2 linked regions of the Homo sapiens genome follow. The protein of the gene in region 1 interacts with the protein of each later gene in a pairwise test. Each region holds a gene or a part of one and is shown in the gene's direction. Other genes may lie near its edges. The genes, in order: WASF3 and RASAL3.

Evidence for each region.
Region 2: the proteins of WASF3 (region 1) and RASAL3 interact in binary tests that used the Homo sapiens proteins (3 or more experiments, as listed by UniProt).

The regions. Positions count from the first base shown.
Region 1 is NC_000013.11:26,551,579-26,562,605, forward strand, and holds the start of WASF3 (actin-binding protein WASF3), read left to right. Parts: upstream 1-6,104; 5' UTR 6,105-6,241; exon of another isoform or gene 6,242-6,587; intron 6,588-11,027. UniProt on the Homo sapiens protein: Downstream effector molecules involved in the transmission of signals from tyrosine kinase receptors and small GTPases to the actin cytoskeleton. Plays a role in the regulation of cell morphology and cytoskeletal organization.
Region 2 is NC_000019.10:15,452,914-15,463,891, reverse strand, and holds part of RASAL3 (RAS protein activator like-3), read left to right. Parts: intron 1-2,284; coding exon 2,285-2,421; intron 2,422-2,595; coding exon 2,596-2,674; intron 2,675-2,770; coding exon 2,771-2,832; intron 2,833-3,633; coding exon 3,634-3,689; intron 3,690-5,236; coding exon 5,237-5,363; intron 5,364-5,465; coding exon 5,466-5,564; intron 5,565-6,057; coding exon 6,058-6,600; intron 6,601-7,245; coding exon 7,246-7,390; intron 7,391-7,643; coding exon 7,644-7,788; coding exon of another isoform or gene 7,789-7,792; exon of another isoform or gene 7,793-7,983; coding exon of another isoform or gene 7,984-8,043; exon of another isoform or gene 8,044-8,254; intron 8,255-8,960; coding exon of another isoform or gene 8,961-8,998; coding exon 8,999-9,235; intron 9,236-9,329; coding exon 9,330-9,531; intron 9,532-9,624; coding exon 9,625-9,743; intron 9,744-10,394; coding exon 10,395-10,785; intron 10,786-10,978. UniProt on the Homo sapiens protein: Functions as a Ras GTPase-activating protein. Plays an important role in the expansion and functions of natural killer T (NKT) cells in the liver by negatively regulating RAS activity and the down-stream ERK signaling pathway.

The DNA.
Region 1 (11,027 bases):
GGCAATAAAGCCATGTGAAGGAGTGCAAGGAGAGTACAGAGGCTGGTGTAGGTAACTGTGCCCAGGAAGGCTCCAGAGAGGTGAATTTGAGCTGCGTTGTGAAAGTTGAGCTTCCCAGGTGAGGAAGGGCAGGAGGGGTATTCAGACAGAAAGCCCAGGGCATGTAGGGCGAATGCTAGTGGTGCAGGATGCTTCAGGAAATCTGGTAGCTGGATTATTTTTAAGGGCTTTATTTGACTTATCCTGTAGACAGTGGGAGACTCTGACGGTTTTTGAGCAGCATAGAGATGCTATCAGATCTACATTTTAAAAATTGCTCATAAAATAGCGTGAAGACACAGTGAAGGAAAAACCAAGGGAAATGTGTTAGAAATATTGTCACAGCACAAAAAGGGATGGTGGTGAACTCAGCTTGGGTTGTGGGAATGGGAAAGGAGAGGCAGGGATAGATTTGAGGGAAGTATTGGCCATGTGCTTCTCAGAATATTGTGCACACATTACTCTGCTGTTTCACTTAGCAAGAATAGCAACTTCTAGGGCTCTCCATGTTCATTGGAAAAACAGCTTGTCTGTGAAAATATCAGTGAGTCTTGGCTGGGTTACCTTGGGGGAAAAAGACAATTTCTCTGGGCCTTATCTATAAAATGGGCAACAGACCACATATCCAATAGATGTTATGAAGGTTAAATACAACAAATACAGCATACTGCACATAGAGCATTCTCAACAAATGTTTGTTATTTTTACCTTCTCATAATTTTCCTCACCTCAAAATAAAGTTAATATCAATATACTGCCTTGCTCTGATGAGATAATTGGGTTAATATTAAAATTTAAGATATAGCCATGTTTCCAGCAAATATTTTATTCTTTGAGACGTAGATATGGATATGTATGTATTTATTTCACTCTATGTCAAGATGAAAATAAATACTATCCTTCAGAAGAAAGCTCGGGTAAGTGAAGTATGTTTATAAAGATTTATATATGGAGCTAAATTAATTCTTGAGAACTGAGGTATTTGTAGTCATTATTTTACTTCATTCTGAGAACAAGTACAAATGAGCATGTCAAAAATGACAGTTATTATGCTTTTAAAATTTGATTTCTTACATATTCTAATTATATTCTTTTAATTAGTAACCACTCTTTGTTCTTTCTCTTCCGCAAAGTGAGATTGAACTCAGTTCCTAATGCAAAGCAGTTTGTAATTTTTATGTAAGATGACATGTTATTAAGTAAAAAGAATGACAATTGTTTTTCCACTAAAGACTTAGTGATGACAAAAGAGAATTAAGCAAATCACTGAGGGAATACCTAATTTATTAAGTGTCTTGAGAAAGTCACTGTGTCATCACTATCAGATTCAAATTAAGAGGATGCCTAAGCTGCCTACATTTTGACTTTAGAAATATATCCAAGATTTTGACCAGGCAAAGAACAAAGATGGCACAATTCAAGAGGTTTTAAAAATAGTTGTGAAGCATATTCTTATTAGGAATATGCTTGAGAGCTGTTCAGTTATCGTAATGCTAGACAGCTGCATCTCACTGCCCTGTGGGCCCCGGACTGGCTTCACTACACGCTGCATGCACGGGATTTCACAGAACACTGACAGTCACTTGCATCACCAGTATTCTCTTGACCACAATACCTTGTCACCAGTTTCCCTGCTGCTAGATTTTATTTTACTGTACTTCAGTATAATACCAGCATCGTATACCAGGTTGGTCAAATATTTACAGAGAAAAAGTTGGGAGGGGGTAGTAACGGAGTCTGGAGGAGTTACAGGTATCGAGTCTCCACGGTTCCATTTTATAGGCTATGCACGGCTCTGCTTGTACACTAGAATGATCCAGACATTTTTATTTTGGAGATATATGCTGAAGTATTTAAGGTAGAGTATCTTGGTGTTTGCAATTTGTCTACAAGTGGTTCAGCTAAAAAATAATGGAGAGGCCGGGCACGGTGGCTCACGCCTGTAATCCTAGCACTTTGGGAGGCCGAGGCGGGCGGATCATGAGGTCAGGAGATCGAGACCATCCTGGCTAACACAGTGAAACGCCGTCTCTAATAAAAATACAAAAAATTAGCCAGTTGTGGTGGCGGGCGCCTGTAGTCCCAGCTACTTGGGAGGCTGAGGCAGGAGAATGGTGTGAACCCAGGAGGCGGAGCTTGCAGTGAGCCGAGATCACGCCACTGCACTCCAGCCTGGGCGACAGAGCGAGACTCCATCTCAAAAAAAAAAAAAAATTATGGAGAGACAGAGAGAGAGACTGATGGAGCAAATGTGGCCTTGTGTAATTGGATAAAGGTATATGGGTGTTCCTTCTACCATTCTTTCAATTTTTCTTTACATTGGAAAAATTTTAATATAAAAAGTCAGGAAAACCTCCCCAAAACTTTTTCTTTTCTTTTCTTTTCCTTTCCTTTCCTTCCCTTCCTTCCTTCTTTCTCTTTCTTTCCTTCCTTCCTTCCTTCCTTCCTTCCTTCCTTCCTTCCTTCCTTCCTTCCTTCCTTCTTTCTTTCTTTCTTTCTTTCTTTCTTTCTTTCTTTCTTTCTTTCTTTGACAGAGTCTTACTCTGTCACACAGGCTGGATTGCAATGGTGTGAGCACAGCTCACTGCAGCCTCCAACTCCTAGGCTGAAGCGACACTCCTGCCTTAGCCTCCTTCTGAGTGGCTGGGACTACAGGCATATGCCACCACTCTTGGCTAATTCTTTTAGTTTTTGCAAAGATGGGAATCTCACTATATTGCCCAGGCTGGTCTCAAATTCCTGACCTCAAGCAAGTCTCCTGCCTTGGCCTCCGAAAGTGCTGGGATTACAGGTGTGAGCCACTGCACATAGCCCAAAAACTTCTTAAAAGGTACAATGATAAAGAACTTTTAAAAAAGATTTACCAATAGTTGAAGGACAATAGAATTTGTGACTGCAATAAAGGTCCATAAATACAGCAAAGGTGACCTTGCTTAAAAAATTTTAAGAAACGAAACTTTCTTTTTATTCTGTTAACTATGGTTCCTACTGCCTTTTCCAGAATGAATATACTTAGAATCATACAGTCTGTAGCCTTCTCAGACTGACTTTTCTCATTTAGCTATATGCATTTAAGTTTCCTCCATGTCTTTGTATGGCTTGATAGCTCATTTCTTTTTATCATGAAATAACATTCAATTGTATGGATGTACTGCAATTTGTTTATTCATTCACCTTGTGAGGGACATCTTTGATTCTTCCAGGGTCTCGTGATTATGAATAAACATTCGGGTACAAGTTTTTGTGTGGGCATGTTTTCAGCACAATTGGGTAAATACCTAGGAGTGTGATGGCTGGACTGAATTGTGAGACTATGCTTAGCTTTGTGAGAAACTGCCAGACTGTCTTCCAAAGTGGTCGTACCATTTTGCATTCCCATCGGCAATGGATGGGCATTCCTGTTGTTTTGTATCCTTGCCAGTATTTGGTATCCTTAGGTTTTTTGTTGTTGTTGCCGTTAGCTTTTTTATTTTAGCCATCCTAGTAGGTATGTCATAGTATTTCATTTTTGTTTTAATTTGCAATTCCTTAATGACACATGATATTGAGCATGTTTATTTGCCATCTGTGTATTGTCAACTCCACTTTAGGGAGGTGTCTGTTTAGATCTTTTGCTCACTTGAAAATTGGATTGTTTTTTAATTGACACCTGAGTGGCCTTTTTAAAAAAGTGGGTCTTATGAATAAATAGAGTGAGGGCTCAATCATGAATTCATTTATTCAGCAACTACATCAGGTACTGCCACTCTCATACCCAAGGTCTGCATTCCTCTTTTCCATTACTAACAAAACTCTAATATTCCTCCAGCCAATGCCCCAACTTTAAATACTTAGCATTTCAGACTCCTTTGCAGCTAAAGGTGGTCATGTGACATGTGGCTGGCCAATAAAATGCAAGCAGAAGGTGCTGGGTAAAGCTTCCCAGGAAGATGCAGACCCAACTGGGCATGCACCTCTTTGATCTTTTGCCCTTTACCCATCCCCCTACCATTTTCCTCAATGTGATGCAATGCTTACAAGGGAAGCAGGCATCCTGTGAGGATGAAGACAGAGATCACATGACAAGGATAGCAGAGACAATGGCTAGAAAGAGCCTGAGACACAACGACACCATAGAAGAGATATTACAGAAGCCCTGTGGCTGTCTCCAGGTTTCTGGTTTTGTGATAAGAAGCACTCCTATTTAGTAGGCACTTTTAGTCAAGATTCTGTTACAGGTCACCAATTCACTCCCTGATGCAGCAACATTTTATTAAGGATGAGGCACTTATTAGCGGTGGGCTCTAATCCTCTAACAAGACTGCTCTAAGCAGTTTTTATTTAAAGGACTGGTTCACACAAGACCATATTTGAAATAATTTATTTGTACCATGAACCACAACACTAGGAATAGAATCATATTTACCACATGCTCAGCACTGTACTAGGCATTATAAAAGGAGGAAAGAGGACTGTAAAATAAGGGCCTTATCCTCATGGAACTGATGATCTAATTAGAGAGGTAAGACTGACCTATATGAAACAAACCTGAACACTTTGGGATGATGTGTTTAAGGGCTAACAGTGAGTGCAAACTAAGTGTAGCAGCGGTTTATAAGGCTGGGGTCACCGAAGAGGGAAGCAGCCAGGGAAATATGATTAGCAACCTTGAAAACACTCTGGGTATCTATACTTTCATATTTTTGAGTTCTAAATTAATGACCTAAACATAGACATGGAAGCCATTCCCCTGGGTAAGTGAAGATGAAATGAAGGAAAGTCATTTTAATTTGAATGCCAATTTAGCTTTCAATTCAGCAGACATTTGTCACTCTAGTATCAATATTTAAAATACTGGGTCACTGTAATTATTCACCAAAATCCTGTTTACCTTGTTAATTACCAGCAATTTTTTAAAATGATGGCACTTTATGGAAACTGAATATACGTCATCTTTAAAAAGAGCTTTTAAAATCCCTCCTTTGGAAGTAATGCAGGTTAATAGATTAGACATTTTATGAAGAGGGCTGCATGATTTTTCTACTGCATTTCTGGTGTTGCAAACTTTGGTGAAATTATTAACTGCTATTCATTTTTTCCAACTTTTAGTTGTCTCTAGCTAGATGTTGATCATTATTACACATCTGTAAAGAAAAGAGCAAACCAACTTGAATTAGTGTTTCTTGAACTATTCATTAGAATTTAAAATTTTTTCCTAAAAGTTTTTCAATTTAGTGATCCTATTGGTAAATAAAAAGAATAAAGGCATGCAAATTAAAATAAAGGTAACATTTCTATTAGATGTTTTTAAACCCCTTTCCTTTGTGACCTAGCTTTTCTATCTTGGCTTTTCTATCTTTTCTTCTCTTCCTTTCCTTTCCTCCTTTCTTTTTCTTAAGTTTGTTTATGCCTCAGTCATCTGGTCGCACGTGGCTATGTTCCACTGTGGCAGGGCTTAGCTGGCAGTTTCAGGGATATCTTAGTTTTAATAAGTATTGTGGATTTCCTCACATCTAGGGTGGAGAGAGATTGGTTATAGGGTGATAAAAACAGAAGAATCTGTGTTGAAGGAGATGGGAAGATTTTAAGAATGCTAACGAATTTGAGCAGGGCATAAAACCAACCCATGAACAGGGCTACAGTCCTCTCAGGGTTGCCTGAAGCCTCAGCCCTGGAGGACGTCTGACACCTTACAGGTAGAGGACCTCTGTGCAGGAGCCCTCAACACCCAGGGAGGATTAGGATATAAGCGCAAACTCAAAGGTACTGTAATGGGCACCTAGCAATCAGAGGTGATACAAGGGTCTCTTGGCCCGAAGTATCCCCACCTCTCCTCGCTGGAAAGGACGCTGCCTAAGCCTCATCCCGAGCTGGGGGCGGAGGACCAAGGGTGAGAGCCACCGCCTCCGCAATCCCCCGCCCCTCGGCACCGTCGCTCAGCGCGCTCGCCGGCTCCCTATTGGCCGAGGCACTCGCCAATCCTGGTGAAGCGGCCCCGTGAGTTGGCCCTGGTTGGTGGAGCCGGCACTGAGCCCCCCTCCTGCTCCGGCCGAGCCCCCCCGCCGGGAGGGGGCGTGGCCGCGGCCGTGGACGGGCCGGAGGCGGCGTCGCTCGCGCCGCTGCGTGCGGTGTGGTGCGAGGCGGGTGCGCCGGGCGGCCGCGGCGCGGCGGGACCATGGAGCTCAGAGCGCAGCCCCGGCGCCGGCGGCGGGACCGCGGACCGGTGAGTGAGGGCTGCGGTCGCCCCGGCTCTCCGCTGTAGGCTGCTGTGGCCCTCTCGGCTCCGGGCCGGGCGGCTGTCGGGGGAGGGGCGGCCCCACGGCGAACTGAAGTTGCTGCATCGCCGCGCGCTCCGGCCGGGCGGCGGGGCCCACTGCGGGCTGCGGCGCCGCCTCGCGCCTATCCCTGCAGCCCGGCCGCATTCTCCCGGCCGGCTCCCGCGCTGGCAGGGGCTTCTCGCCGTCACGGCGCGGCCAGGCGGCCCTTCTCTCCCGCGCCTCCGGGCCTCCGGCCCTTTGCCGTCCGGTGCGCGCTCCCTGGACTCGGGACAGCCACCCGCCCTCCCCGCCGTAAGTGGCGCCCGGGCCTCCGCTCGCGCCCCACGCACGACGCCCCGGGCCGCTCCGCGTCCGGGACCTTCGCATCCGTTCAGTGTCTGCGCGCCCTCGCTGGTTCTGGTCCAGCTCCGCGTGCCCCCCGGCCCCATTCGGCCCTCGCCGCCCTGGCCTGTGCCCTCTTGGTGCCCGCGTGCGTGTTGGTTGCGGGCGTCCTCTCCCTCGAGGCTGCGGTGCCGCGTGGCTCCCGGCCTCGGAGACCAGGCCGGACTCTTGGAGTGCAGGGGAGGAGGTGGGGCGGCCCGCGAGTGCGGGGGACCGCGCGCACGGAGCCGCGGCGCGCGGGGTATCATCCCCGGGGGTCTTTACCCGCGCGCCTGGGCTTTAGCGAGGGCAGAAGCTTCCTCTCAGTTTGTGGTGCTGACGTGCAATGGCGATTGCTTCTTGATTTGGCCCCTCTGCAAGGGAGAGTTCCCTGGTGGAGACGAGAGTTCTTAATTATTCAGAAACTATGTGATGGGCTTAGGGATCAATGGGAGCATCATAGGAATTCTTTCTCATTTTAAGGTTAATTTTTAAATTAGCGGTTTACTTCCAGCAACAGTCTCGAGTTTTCAAAAACTGAAAATTAAAAAGACTACTTTTCGCAGTTCTTCAAATTAAATGCATAGCAGAACATGGTATTTTAAGATTCAGAGTCTACTTTTTATAAGGGGGAGAGGATAGCTATTTGAAATATTTTGCATCTTAAAAATTAGGTTTATCTAAAGCTTAAAATGCGACTCTATCAAAACTAAGTTCAAAGTATTGTAATTGACTAATCTTTCTATTGTCTCTAGGGCAAATTCTATTGCTTCTTTTTATATGTGCTTTACCCAACTCTCCTTTTCTAGCAGTTAAACAATGCAGTGGTTCTTTAAAGCTAGTTCTTTTATCTGCTTGAGAGGTTAAACAAACGAAAGCTGGGTTTGACCTTTCCCAAAGGCATTCTCATTGTGTCCTCTCCAGCTCCCTTCTCCCAGGGTTCTAATGACTTCAGTGTAGTACTCATTTTTCTTCATCTTGAAAGATTTTCTTAGTTGGTATTCACAAAAGCTGTGTCTTTTCACATGTTTAAATATTGGAAAGTTTGGTCAACTATTATATTTACCTTCCAACCTGTGCTTATTCTAGAACTATGTACATATAGAAATTGTTCTTGCATTTCCAGTTGGCTGACATGAAGTTGCTTAATAGCATTTGTTTTTAAAAAATCTGTTTGCTTTAAAATTTACAACCTAATAGTCAATGATGTGCTTCACTATCTTCAACAATTACGAAAACAAAGGTGGAACACACTTTGCTAAGTGGTCATGCCAACATTGTAACCTCCTATCTCTTGTCAGTGTGTCTTTGTAGTCACACGTTACGGTTCCCATAGAAACCTATGTATGGCAGGTAACCTTTTGGTTATTGGGATGTTTTGATTAAAACAATTGCGTTATAATGCAAGTATTAAATGAATTGTCCCTACTCACGGGCTAGTACTAGTGATCGTCTTTGGAATTCCAAGGACTTTCTTTGAAGAGTACTCCCAGATTGTTTTTCACTTTGGGTGGCTCTCCATTGCTGTAGACCTTGAATCTCTTTTTCTTTTCTTTTCTTTCTTTCTTTCTTTCTTTTTTTTTTTTTTTTTTTTTTTTTTGAGACGGAGTCTTGCTCTTGTCTCCCAGACTGGAGTGCAGTGGTGTGATCTCGGCTCACTGCAACCTCCGCCTCCTGGGTTCAAGCGATTCTCCTGCCTCAGACTCCCGAGTAGCTGGGAGTACAGGCGCCCGCCACCATGCCCGGCTAATTTTTGTACTTTTAGTAGAGATGCAGTTTCACCATGTTGGACAGATTGGTCTCGAACTCCTGACCTCAGGTTGATCCGCCCACCTCGGCCTCCCAAAATGCTGGGATTACAGGCGTGAGCCACCGCTCCCGGCCGAATCTCTCAACTTCTCTTCTCAGTCCGTTTTAAGGGCCCTGTTTCTTTCAAGTCAGGCTTTTTTTGGCTTTGCTCTTGGGCATGTGGAACTAAATGCTTCTGACAGCCCCACACATTCTTCTTCAGGGCTGGTTCTTTACCTGTGGCTTGACTTTATGCTGGTAATACAGAAATATTTTATGCCAGTAATACATAAATGATGTACATTATAAAATAAACAATATCAACACAGAGATTTATAGAGGTAAAAAGTCTTAAGTTTTCTTTTTCCCGTCTTATTGTTGTCCTATTCCTATTTCTTTCTTCAGAGGTAACCATAATATAGGGTGTATCCTTCTGGATTTTTTCCATTTAATACTGTAGATGAAATATATAACCCTGTATGTTAAAAAAACCATTTCATGAATGCCTACTAGGTACCAGGTACTATTTTAATCACTAGGGTTGCAAAAATAAGAGACAGACGCTTTCAAGATGTTCATAGTCTACCAGGACAAGCAATTACAGTGCAGTGTGATAAGTACCATGATAGAGTCAGTAATCAGTGAGGGATGTAGGAGCCTCATGCATGACCTAATCCATTCATTCATTTGCTTTATTCATTCAGTACACTTCAGAGTTTTAATATGTGCCGGGGATACAGAGATAAACAAGACAGATACCTCTGTCAGCCCCCGATGAGCTTGCTGTGCAGTTCAGTCTCAAAGAGTTTTAACCGTTGGTTACAATGTATTGTTTGATATGGGATCTGAAAGGGGCCAGCAACAAGAGCTCAGAGGAGGACCATAAACCCAAGCTTAGGGACGTTCAGAGAGACAGGAAAGCCTCCCAGAGGAAGCACCATGAGAAGGAATTGGTCGAAGTCTGGGTTGAGGAGAGGGTGTACAGAGAGATGGTCAGGGAGGTGATGCACTGGAGCAACCACAAACACCAGGAGTTCAGTCCAGTGGGGGTGGTTGTGGGCAAGGGCAGGGAAGTGGCAAGAAGTGAGGGAGGAGAAGTAAGGAGGGACTGTGCCTTGTGGGGTCTTGTGATTACTGTTGTGTGGAGTTCGGAGACCTCTGTGGGCAACAGGAAATGGTTGAAGAATTGTAAGCAAAAGAGGGACACGGTCAAATTTGCCCTTTGGAGAATGGATTAGAAGAGGGAAGGCTTGAAGCAGGGAAATTTGAGGAGGTAGAATTGCTGGGATTTGGTCATTGGCCGTGTGTGTGTATGTGGTGGGGGGAGTTGGGGCAGGGAGGAGTTCAGGGCAGTGTCCAGCTCTGGCTGGGTGGTTGGGTGATGGCACTGTCCTTAGGTGGGGACAGAGCAGCATCCATTTTGGGGAAAAGATTATGGGTCACACTTGGCTGGGTTAAGTTTCAGGTGCTGAGGGGACAGTGTGTTCAGTTGGCTGCACTAGGGATCCAGATAATCAGGAGTTGTCTGGATTAGAGAGACGCATGTGAGAGTTATTAGCTGTCCCAGACTGTCTCAAACAGTTTGAGAGTTTCCCAAACTATCAGCTAAGGTGCTACAGCAAACAGGGAGACTGGGGGATGTTTCACATTGTTGAGGAAAACACATAGTTCCGTCTCTTCAAGCCTGTGGAAACTACTAGCTCAAGATAGTTAAAAATGTCTAGATTAGATTGCACTCCATTCCATTCGATGACCTCATGTTTGTAAAGAAGGATTTTTGGTGGTTGCTGTAGCACGTGAAAATCAGTGTAGAAAAGGAAATGAGGGAGGCCATTGTCCAGTCTGACTCCAAGGTTTGAGAGAAATTGTGCAGTGCTCAACAAGTGTACACATACTGTATTAGTAAATACTTGTGGTTATCTAAGAATGAAATAAAAATGCCATTTTTTCTCTCTATTAAAGTGTACTTTTTTCAAGTTGGTACCAAGTTGTTAGGACATTAAGTACTTACGTTTTTAACATTTTCTTTGCTCAATAAGCATTTGTTTTGGCCTGAGACTCCAAGGGTGCGGTGAACAGAGAAAGTTTTGGAACTCCTGCCTTTGCCTGTGCAGTATTTGTTAATGGAAGCTGTTGGAGTAGATGAGGTCATTTGAGGAGTGTGTATAGAGTAAGAAAAGGAGTGGTGTGGAGTGAGATCTGAGGCACTCTTGTGTTTGAAAGGGAAGCAGATAATAGGCTCCCACACTGGGACTAAGAAGGATGGGGGTCATGGTGTCCGAGGAAACCTCAGCAGGCAGGGCGTGCTCAGCTGCTGCGAGCTGTTAGTAATACAGGGGACACTAGAGGCAACAGTGACATGACAGGGATGGGAGGGGGAGGCCAGTTTGTATCAGGATTTAATAGTGAGTGAGAGTGAGGGAGTGGAGCCCAGCATGTGTAGACAGCAATGCTCAAGAAATTTGATGCTGGTGGTTAGGGGTGGTTATAGGGAGGGCAGATAAAGGGGGAACCCTTTGGTTTTTGTTTTTTAAATGGGGGGATTTGAGCATGTTTAAATGCTGGTAAAGAACCAGGAGAGGG
Region 2 (10,978 bases), on another chromosome or scaffold:
AGCTACCCTGTTCCCTCTTTCCCCCTAAAGAGGGTAGGAGGAGTTGCCGGGGTCCTGTGGGCAGAGGGTCCATCTGAGGAAGGAACAGTGAATGTAAACCCGTGATAGTATTGTCCAGAGGCTAAACGGCTCTTGGCCCCAACGGGTCTCTCCTTCAATGGCTCAGGCCCATCCTTTCCTACCTGGATATCCATCTTCAGCCTGCCTCCTACTCTCCTACCTTCTAGCTTCCGTGTCTTTGTTCTGAGCCCTTAAGCCTCAGCCTCTCCATCAGTTCAGTGAGAATAATGATCTCCATTTTGGAGAGTATATAATTTTATTTGCTCATATTCATTCATTTATTCAAGCAGAGGTTTGTTGAGCTTCTATTGTATGTGCCAGGCCCTGATTTAGGCACTGAGGACACACTAGTGAAAGAGACAGATGACCCTCCCTGCCCCATGGAGCTCACAGTGTAGTGGAATTGACAGGAAATCCATCAACAAGAAAATGACAGATGGGCCAGGCATGATGGCTCACACCTGTAATCCCAGCACTTTGGGAGGCCAAGGTGGGTGGATCACCTGAGCTCAGGAGTTCGAGACCAGCCTGGCCAACATGGCAAAACCCTGTTTCTACTAAAAATACAAAAAAAAAAAAGTATCTAGGCATGGTGGCACATACCTGTACTCCCAGCTACTCAGGAGGCTGAGGCAGGATAATCGCTTGAACCCGGGAGGTGGAGGTTGCAGTGAGCTGAGATTGCACTACTGCACTCCCGCCTGGGCGACAGAGGGAGACTCCATCTCAATGGAAGAAAAAAAAAAAAAAGAAAGAAAAAAAATGACAGATGGTGCTAAGTGTCACACAGGGGGATCTAGAAGAGTAATGGATATCACAAGAATTAGGGCTCAGGAATGTAACACTAGCCTAGGGCCCAGCATTTTTTTTATTTTTTTTTTGAGATGGAGTCTCGCTCTGTTGCCCAGGCTGGAGTGCAGTGGCGCGATCTCGGCTCACCGCAAGCTCCGCCTCCTGGGTTCACGCCATTCTCCTGCCTCAGCCTCCTGAGCAGCTGGGACTACAGGAACCCGCCACCATGCCCAGCTAATTGTTGTATTTCTAGTAGAGACAGGGTTTCACTGTGTTAACCAGAATGGTCTCGATCTCCTGACCTCATGATCCGCCCGCCTCAGCCTCCCAAAGTGCTGGGATTACAGGCGTGAGCCACCGCGCCCGGCCCCAGGCCCAACATATTTTAAGTGATCCGTTAATAAGCGGGAGTTATCATTTATTGCTCCTGGTGGTAAAAACAAGGGAACAGACAGGCAATCTGGGAGGGCTAATTCAGCCCTCCTATTTCCTGGAAGCTCATTTAATTCTCACTGCTTATATTCCCATTTTGTTTTTGTTTTTGTTTTTGTTTTGAGACACAGTCTCACTTCCTTGCCCAGGCTGGAGTGCAGTGGCGGAATCTCAGCTCACTGCAACCTCTGCCTCCCAAGTTCAAGAGATTCTCCTGCCTCAGCCTCCTGAGTAACTGGGATTACAGGCATGTGCCACCACGCCTGGCTAATTTTGTATTTTTAGTAGAGACGGGGTTTCTCCATGTTGGTCAGGCTGGTTTTGAACTCCCAGCCTCAGATGATCCACCCGCCTAGGCCTCCCAAAGTGCTAGGATTACAGGTGTGAGCCACAGAGCCCAGGCACATCAGGCTATTTTTTAAAGACAGGGTCTTGTTATGTTGCCCAGGCTGGTCTCAAACTCCTGGTCTCAAGCAATCTGCCCCACCTCGGCCTCCCAAATGTTGGGATTACAGGCATGAGCCACCTTGCCCAGCCCCTGTCCTGTTTTTTAACCTCTTGGACCCACATAATGTCTTGGTTAAGAGAAGAATGCAAAAAAAACAAAAAAACAAAAAAAGAGAGAGAGAGAAGAATGCTTGTGACTGAAGCCCAGCCCAACCACTCACAAACTGTGTGACCCTGAGCAAGTCACTCAACCTCTCTGAGCCTGTTATCATAGCCCTTTGAATGGCTTTTGGAGGATTCAATGCAAGAAGGTGTGTGGAGTGGTATACAGGGTACTGGGCACATGGTAGGTGAGTTGTGTCTGCTACCCATGGTTAGTGGGGACAAGGCCCAGACAGCGATGAAAGCTTGCCCAAGGTCATACAGTCTGATACGGCTGCTGGGGTGGGGGGCACCTAGGAGGGAACCCACCATGAGCCTTCGGGAATGGAAAGGGTAGCCTGAGGGAGAGAAAACGTCTCTTAAGTCCCCCAGTGCCTCCTCTTCTTCCCAGAGCTGGAGCCGGAGCCAGAGCTGGAGCCCCCTACCCCACAGATCCCTGAGGCCCCCACACCCAACGTGCCTGTCTGGGACATTGGGGGCTTCACCCTGCTTGATGGGAAGCTGGTGCTGCTTGGAGGAGAGGAGGAGGTGAGAGGGGGCACCTGGGAAAGGGGAGGAGGGAAGAAAGAAAAAGGAGGAGGGCAGAACAGAGGCAGGGGCTGGAGGGAGGATAATGGGAAGGTGTCTGCCTCTCCCTCGGTCTGCCTGCCTGCCTGCCTGCCTGCCTCCCCTCTCTGACTACCCACTCCTGCGGGAGAACAGGGTCCTCGAAGGCCCCGGGTGGGAAGTGCTAGCTCCGAGGGCAGCATCCACGTGGCCATGGGGAACTTCAGGGATCCAGGTAAGCTTGAGGGGTGGAAAGGCCTGGGGCATTTGGGAGGCTCTAAAAGTGGGGCAGAATCCAACCCCCCAACCTGCCACCCATAACGACCCACAGATCGGATGCCTGGAAAAACAGAACCGGAGACTGCTGGTCCCAACCAGGTCCACAACGTTCGGGTAAGGCAGCCAGTGAAGGTGGGAGGTAGAGGGGAGAGCCAAGACTCTCGGACCCTCAAAGCTGAAAGGGCACTCTTGCTGGGTGATCTGGAGCAGGTTGCTGACCCTCTTTGGGCCTCAGAGTCCCAGTCTGTCAAATGAAGCTAATGAAATAACCTTTCTCTAGGGGTTGTTTATGGGAAGCCAATAGAGAGTGCAGGAGCCAGGCAGGGCAGTGCGCAGCTATAGTCCAAGCTACTCGGGAGGCTGAGCAGAGAGCACTGCTTGAGGCCAGGAGTTCAACACCAGCCTAAGCAACATGGGGAGACTTCATCTCTTAAATAAATAAATGAATAGTATAGGAGAATATATGATTGATGCTTTACAAATGGGAGTTTGGGCCAGGCACAGTGGTTCACACCTGTAATCCCAACATTTTGGGAGGCTGAAGCAGAAGGATTGCTTGAGACCAGGAGTTCAAGACCAGCCTGGGCAACATAGCAAGTCCCCAATTCTACATGGTAACATTCACCTGTAGTCCCAGCTGAGGCAAGAGGATCACTTGAGCCCAGAAATTTGAGGCTGCAGTGAGCCATGATCGCACCACTGTACTCCAGCCTGGGCGACAGCACGAGACCCTGTCTTAAAAAAACAAATGAACAAAGAATTAGGAGCTGCTGATTGCTCTTATTATTCCTGCTAATACAGCCTGAGCTTGGTGTTGGTCCTCCAAGACCAGTAGATCCTCTGGGATGTCTTGGGAGGGAAGGAGCTGAGGAAGGAGCACAGATTTCTGTCCAGCTGACATTCCCTTCCCCACAGGGGTTGCTCAAGAGGCTGAAAGAGAAGAAAAAGGCCAGGTTGGAGCCCCGGGATGGGTAAGGGTGTATGAGAGGCTGGAGGGGCTGGGGTTCAACACTGGCCCCTCCTCCTCCACCTCCTGCATATCATTCCAATCTACACCAAACACCCCCTGTGGCCTCTGTGTTCTGCCCCACATCAGTTGATGCTGGGGACATTGAATGATCTAGCACAGAGCCAGGGTGGGGGCAAAGTCTGACACAATAACTCTAAAATGGGAGCTAAGTCAATCAACTGGTCTGGGAGGGTTAGGGAAGGTACCCTTGAGCTGAGATCTGAAGGGTGGATGGAAGTTAACTAGGCCAACAGGGGGGTGGAAAAAGCATTCCAGGCAGAAGGAACAACAAGTGCAAAGGCCAAGAGGCCGAAAGAAGCAACTAAAACAAGGCCAAGAGGGCTGGGTGAAGTGGCTCCCAGCACTTTGGGAGGCCAAAGTGGGCAGACTGCTTGAGTCTAGGAGTTCGAGACCAGCCTGGGCAACATAGTGAGACCCCATTTCTACAAAAAATACAAAAATTAGCTAGGCATGGTGGCGGGCACCTGTAGTCCCACCTACTGGGGAGGCTGAGTGGGAGGATTGCTTGAGCCTGGGAAGTTGAGGCTGCAGTGCACAGAGATCATGCCACTGCACTCCAGCCTGGGCAACAGAGCAAGATTGTGTCTCAAAAATAAATAGGGCTGGGTGCGGTGGCTCACACCTGTAATCCCACAGTTTGGGAGGCAGAGGCAGGTGGAACATTTGAGGTCAGGAGTTCAAGACCAGCCTGGCCAACGTGGTGAAATCCCATCTCTACTTAAAATACAAAATTAGCCAGGCATGGTGGCGAATGCCTGTAATCCCAGTTACTCAGGAGGCTGAGGCAGAAGAATCGCTTAAACCTGGGAGGTGGACATTGCAGTGAGCCAAGATTGTGCCACTGCACTCCTGCCTGGGCAAAAGGGCAAGACTCCATCTCAATAAATAAATAAATAAATAAATAGGGCTGGGCACGGTGGCTCACACCTGTAATCCCACACTTTGGTGAGGCTGAGGCGGGTGGATCACTTGGGATCAGGAGTTCAAGACCAGCCTGGCCAACATGGTGAAACCCCACCTCTACTAAAAATATAAAAATTAGAAAATTAGCCAGGCATGGTGGTGGGCACCTGTGATCCCAGCTACTTGGGAGGCTGAGGAAGGAAAATCACTTGAACCTGGAAGGCAGAGGTTGCAGTGAGCTGAGATCCAGCCACCGCACTAAACAAGACTCTGTCTCAAATAAATAAATAAATAAATAAATAGGATAAAATAAAACAAGGCCAGGGAGGCTGGAGCTCAGAAAGTGATGGATTAGGTGGAGGGAGATGAGGTGACAACATCTGGACCCAGCTTGGTCATGTAGGTCACCAGGAGTTGAGTTTATCCTAAAAGCAAGGAGGTGCCATGGCGGGGGGTGGGGGGGGCACGGGGGAGAAACGGGATCCGAATTGGGTTGAAGTCCTTCCTGGCCTTCCTCTACCCTTCAGGCTATGGGGGATGGGGAAGAGGCAGGAATGACGGTGTGCTCACCCACCCCCTTCCCAGACCCCCCAGTGCTCTGGGCTCTAGGGAGTCGCTGGCCACACTCTCTGAACTGGACCTGGGTGCCGAGCGGGATGTGCGGATCTGGCCACTGCACCCCAGCCTCCTGGGGGAGCCCCACTGCTTTCAGGTAAGTGTAGACAGTCCACCTCGATTCCACCTCAGTCCCACCTCCCACCCTTTGGCTTCACCCTTGGCCTCGATCACACCGTTGGATTCTCCATCCCAACAGGTAACCTGGACGGGTGGAAGCCGCTGCTTCTCTTGTCGCTCGGCCGCTGAGAGAGACCGCTGGATCGAGGACCTTCGTCGCCAATTCCAGCCCACCCAGGTCATTGCCCTCAGAAAAGCGGGACACGGAGACCCCGCCCACAGGCCTGGCCCGCCCCTTCCACTCTACCCAAAGCCAGCTCGCTCCATAACCCGCGCCCCCAACACACCTGCCCCGCCTGCATCGTTGCAACGGCTCCAAGACTCCCCTTCCATCTATTACCAGCCCCGGGAATATCAGACCCGCCCCTTCTGTCCACTCCCGGCCCCATATGCACCCAAAGCCCTGCCTGCCAGGCAATCGCGAAGTCTTTACTCCAGTACTACTCTTGTATGCCCTGGAGCCCCCAACTCTCCCGGAGAGCCCAGAAAAGCTAGAAGACTTCCGCGTAACCGCCTCCGGACTCCCGTGGCTCCACTTCTTTCCCCAAAGGCCCAGCAATCTCCCTAGGGACCCGACGCAACAGGTTTGAGGCTCCACGCTTCACTTGCGGTGCCTTCTTTGGGGTGCCAACAAACCAAAACGCTTCCCCCCATCCCACTCCCATCTGCAGGACAACGTGGAGCGGGAAGAGACATGGCTGAGCGTGTGGGTGCACGAAGCGAAGGGGCTTCCCCGAGCAGCGGCGGGGGCACCCGGCGTGCGCGCCGAGCTGTGGCTGGATGGCGCGCTGCTGGCACGCACGGCGCCTCGGGCCGGCCCAGGCCAGCTCTTCTGGGCCGAGCGCTTCCACTTCGAGGCGCTGCCACCGGCACGTCGCCTGTCGCTGCGGCTGCGCGGCTTGGGCCCGGGAAGCGCGGTGCTGGGCCGCGTGGCCCTGGCGCTGGAGGAGCTGGACGCCCCACGCGCGCCTGCCGCCGGTCTGGAGCGCTGGTTCCCGCTGCTCGGGGCGCCGGCGGGCGCAGCGCTGCGGGCGCGGATTCGGGCGCGTCGCCTGCGCGTGCTGCCGTCCGAGCGCTACAAGGAGCTGGCGGAGTTCCTCACCTTCCACTATGCGCGCCTCTGCGGGGCCCTGGAGCCCGCGCTGCCTGCGCAGGCCAAGGAGGAGCTGGCGGCAGCCATGGTGCGCGTGCTGCGGGCCACCGGCCGGGCGCAGGTGCGGCACCGCGACAGCGCGGACCGGGGCTACCAGGGGTAGACCGATAACGCGCTTCGGGCAGGAGTTGGGGCGCAGGACCTGAGTTGCACCTGTAATGGGGGAGACACCTTGAAGGGGTGTGAGGGGCGTGGTCCAAGTGTCACCTGTAAGCGGCGGGGCACCTAGAAGGGCGGGGCACCTAGAAGGGCGGGGCCTGAACATCACCCGTAAGGGGCGGGGCACCTTGAAGGGCGGGACCTGAGCGTCAGCTGTGAGGGGCTGGGGCTGAGCTGCACCTGTAAGGGGCGGGGCACCTTGAAGGACTGGGCCTGAGCTTCAGCTGTGAGGGGCGGGGCCTAATTATCACCCATAAGGGGCGGGACACCTTGAAGAGCGGAGCCTAAGCTTCAGCTGCGACAGGGGCCTGAGCATCACGCGTGAGGGGCGGGGCCCAGGTTGCACCTCAGCGCTGAAAGGCTTAAATTTCTGCTGTGAGGGTTAGAGGTTCCGGCCTCGGTTATGAGCCCCAGCAGTAAGGACTGGGCCTAAGCATCAGCTACAAGGGGCGGGGCCTGTGCCTCTGGTGTGAGGGACCAGCCAAGGATCCGAATTCCCTTGGACTCTGTCTGCATCTGGTGCAACCTGACCTCCTGCCCTTCCTAGGCGCTGGTGACTGACCTGGGCACTGCGGAGCTGGCGCGCTGTGGAGGCCGTGAGGCGCTGCTGTTCCGGGAAAACACATTGGCCACCAAGGCTATCGATGAGTACATGAAGCTCGTGGCACAGGATTACCTCCAGGAGACCCTGGGTGAGCTGGGGGAGAGTCCATGTCAGCGGCCTGCTGGTGAGCTAGGGGACCTGGGTGAAGTTCTAAGAGTCCTTGAGCAACCTGGATTCTGGTAGTGAGTGGTGTTTTGGGGGTGCTAGGATCCTGGGGACAATTGGGAGCTCCCCAAGATGTTGGGTGCCTCCGGAATAACCTGAAGACAAGGTTGGAGGATGGGTGTGGCAGGTTTTGGTGGTCATGGCCCCAGCCCCTATCTGGCTGTGCTGGGCTGCAGGACAGGTTGTGCGGCGTCTCTGTGCTTCTACTGAGGACTGTGAAGTGGACCCCAGCAAATGTCCAGCCTCGGAGCTGCCAGAGCACCAGGCCAGACTTCGGAACAGCTGCGAGGAGGTCTTCGAAACCATTATCCATTCCTACGAGTGAGAATCAGGGCCCCAGCAGCTTAGCCCACCCCTGCTTACCATGCTAGCCCCGACCTCCAGTTTAGGGTGGCCAGATAAAATACAGGAGACACTCAGTTAAATTTGATGCAATAATTGGGACCATGCTTATACTAAAAAATTACTCATTTGAACCAGGCATGGTGACTCACGCCCGTAATCCCAATGCTTTAGGAGGCCGAGACAAGAGGATTGCTTGAGCCCAGGAGTTCAAGGCCAGTCTGGGCAACATAGCAAGACTCCATCTCTCCAAAAAGCTTTTTAAAAATGAGCTAGGCATGGTGGCACACACCTGTATTCCCAGCCGAGGCTGGAGGATCGCTTGAGCGCAGGATTCAAGGCTGCAGTGAGCTATGATCATGCCACAGCACCCCAGCCTGGTTGACAGAGACCCTGTCCCAAATAAAAGTAAAAATATAAATAAAAATCACTCCGTTATCTGAAATTCATGTTTAACTGGATGTCCTGAAGTTTCGTTTGCTGCATCTGGCAACCCTATCACCATGCAACCCTATCACCACTGACCCCAAGTAACCTGAGACCCAATTCCTTGTCCTGTAACCACAGTTGATTCCATATCCCCAATTTCATGCCACTGGCTCCAGTTAACATAGGACCTCAATCCTATGACCAGATGATGCCCCAAGTCCATGATCCCTGGCTTTAAGTGACCCTCCACCTCAAATCCCATGCAACTGATCACAGGAGACCTGGGATTCCAATCCCTTGACCTCTGACCCTAGGTTAACCTGCATACCTAATCCCTGACTTCAATCAAGTGACTTCTGACCCTAGGTGACCTCCAGAGCCCCAATCCTACTTTATATCTTGTACTCTGGCCCACCAGTCTCATGTCTAATTATAAGTACATCCAAGCTCATAACCTCTGTCTTCATGTGACCCTGTATCCCCAACTATAAGAGTATTATCCCCAGCGATTGCCATAGCTACACCATAAGCCATGGCCCCATGCTGATTCATAACCCCAAGCATTGTTATCTCAGATATTCCCAATCCTAGAGCCCAGACCCCAGGTTCAGTGAGAAGGAAGCCTGCATGGGCTTCATGAATAGCTCTCTGGAGGATCATGGACCAATCATGCAGTGCTTCTGGGACTCCCAACCTTATGACTTTAACCTTTATGCCCATAGCCTCCCCGTCTGACCATTCATTGCCTCTTCTGCACCAGCTGGTTCCCTGCGGAGCTGGGCATCGTGTTCTCAAGCTGGCGAGAAGCATGTAAAGAACGTGGCTCTGAGGTGCTGGGCCCCCGACTGGTGTGCGCCTCCCTCTTCCTGCGGCTCCTGTGCCCTGCCATCCTGGCACCCAGCCTCTTTGGTTTGGCACCAGACCATCCAGCACCCGGCCCAGCCCGCACCCTCACACTGATTGCCAAGGTCATCCAGAACCTCGCCAACCGTGCCCCGTAGGTGCTGGGAAGCTAGGGGTGGGGGGACCATGCTGGGAGTGTGGGGGTGGCAGGTGCCTGACCTGACCCACCCAGCCTGGCCCTGATCCAGGTTCGGTGAGAAGGAGGCCTACATGGGCTTCATGAATAGCTTCCTGGAGGAACATGGACCAGCCATGCAATGCTTCCTGGACCAGGTAGCCATGGTGGATGTGGATGCTGCCCCCAGTGGTTACCAGGGCAGTGGTGATCTGGCCCTCCAGTTAGCTGTCCTGCATGCCCAGCTCTGTACAATTTTTGCTGAGCTTGACCAGGTATGGCCTGAACCCAGAGTAGGGAGGCAAGAAGGCTTGGGAGACTCTGACCCTGGAGACTTTGCTCAGTCTCTGTCCTGCATGCCTCACCAGACAACCCGAGACACCCTGGAACCACTGCCCACCATCCTGCGAGCCATTGAGGAGGGCCAGCCTGTGCTTGTGTCAGTGCCAATGCGTCTCCCACTGCCCCCGGCCCAGGTCCACTCCAGGTAACCTCAAGTCTGGTCTGGGGTCTGATGGGTGGGAACAGGAAGGAGCAGGGCTCAGACAGGGGTCAGAGGTGAAGTTGGATCATTGTGAGCAGAGGTCAAGCCCAGGGTCAGACGGGAATCACAGGTTATAGAAAGGGTTGGGTCAAAGGTCACAGTGTGTTTGAGGTCGGGGATGAGAGGAGAGGTTAGGGTGGAGAGATGTCAAGGGTCATAGAGAGGACAGTATTATAGTCAGAAGTCAAGGACAGGAGCCAGGCTCAGTGGCTCATGCCTGTAATCCCAGCACTTTGGGAGGCTGAGGCAGGAGGATCACTTGAGGCCAGGAACTTAAGACAAGCCTGGGCAACATAGGGAGACCCCATCTCTACCAAAAAAAAAAAAAATTACCTGGGTATAGTGGCATGTGCTGGTAGTCCTAGATATTTGGGAGGCTGAGGCTGGGGAATAGCTTGAGCTCCAGAATTCAAGGCTGCAGTGAGCTATGATCTAGCCACTGCACTCCAGCCTGGGCGACAGAGCAAGACCTTGTCTCAAAAAAAAAAAAGAAAGGACAAGTTCACGTGGGGGGTGAGGTCACTTCTGGTCAGGTCGGGATGGGGTCGTCTCAGGGGCCAGTGGAGGGTCTAAGATCCTCCATCCCACCCCTAGCCTCTCCGCAGGGGAGAAGCCCGGCTTCCTGGCCCCCCGGGACCTCCCCAAGCACACCCCTCTCATCTCCAAGAGCCAGTCTCTGCGCAGCGTTCGCCGCTCAGAGAGTTGGGCCCGGCCACGGCCGGACGAAGAGCGGCCCCTGCGGCGGCCCCGGCCGGTGCAGCGCACGCAGAGTGTCCCGGTCCGGCGTCCTGCCCGCCGCCGCCAATCTGCGGGGCCCTGGCCGCGACCCAAAGGCTCCCTGAGCATGGGACCAGCGCCCCGCGCCCGGCCTTGGACCCGGGACTCCGCCTCGCTGCCTCGGAAGCCGTCGGTACCCTGGCAGCGCCAAATGGACCAGCCGCAAGACCGAAACCAGGCACTGGGCACGCACCGACCTGTGAACAAGGTAAGGTCAGGCCCAGGTCCGCGCCTGGGGAGTGGGAACAGGGACGCGACTGGGGAAGACTGAAGGGCCAGGCAAGTCTGGGTTCAAGTACCCAGCTCGCTGTGCTGTGTGACCCCAGGCCTAGCCCGACCCTCTCTGAGCTTCAGTCTCCCCAGCTGTACCGCAGGAGGGATGTTCCCCAACTAGGCAGGCC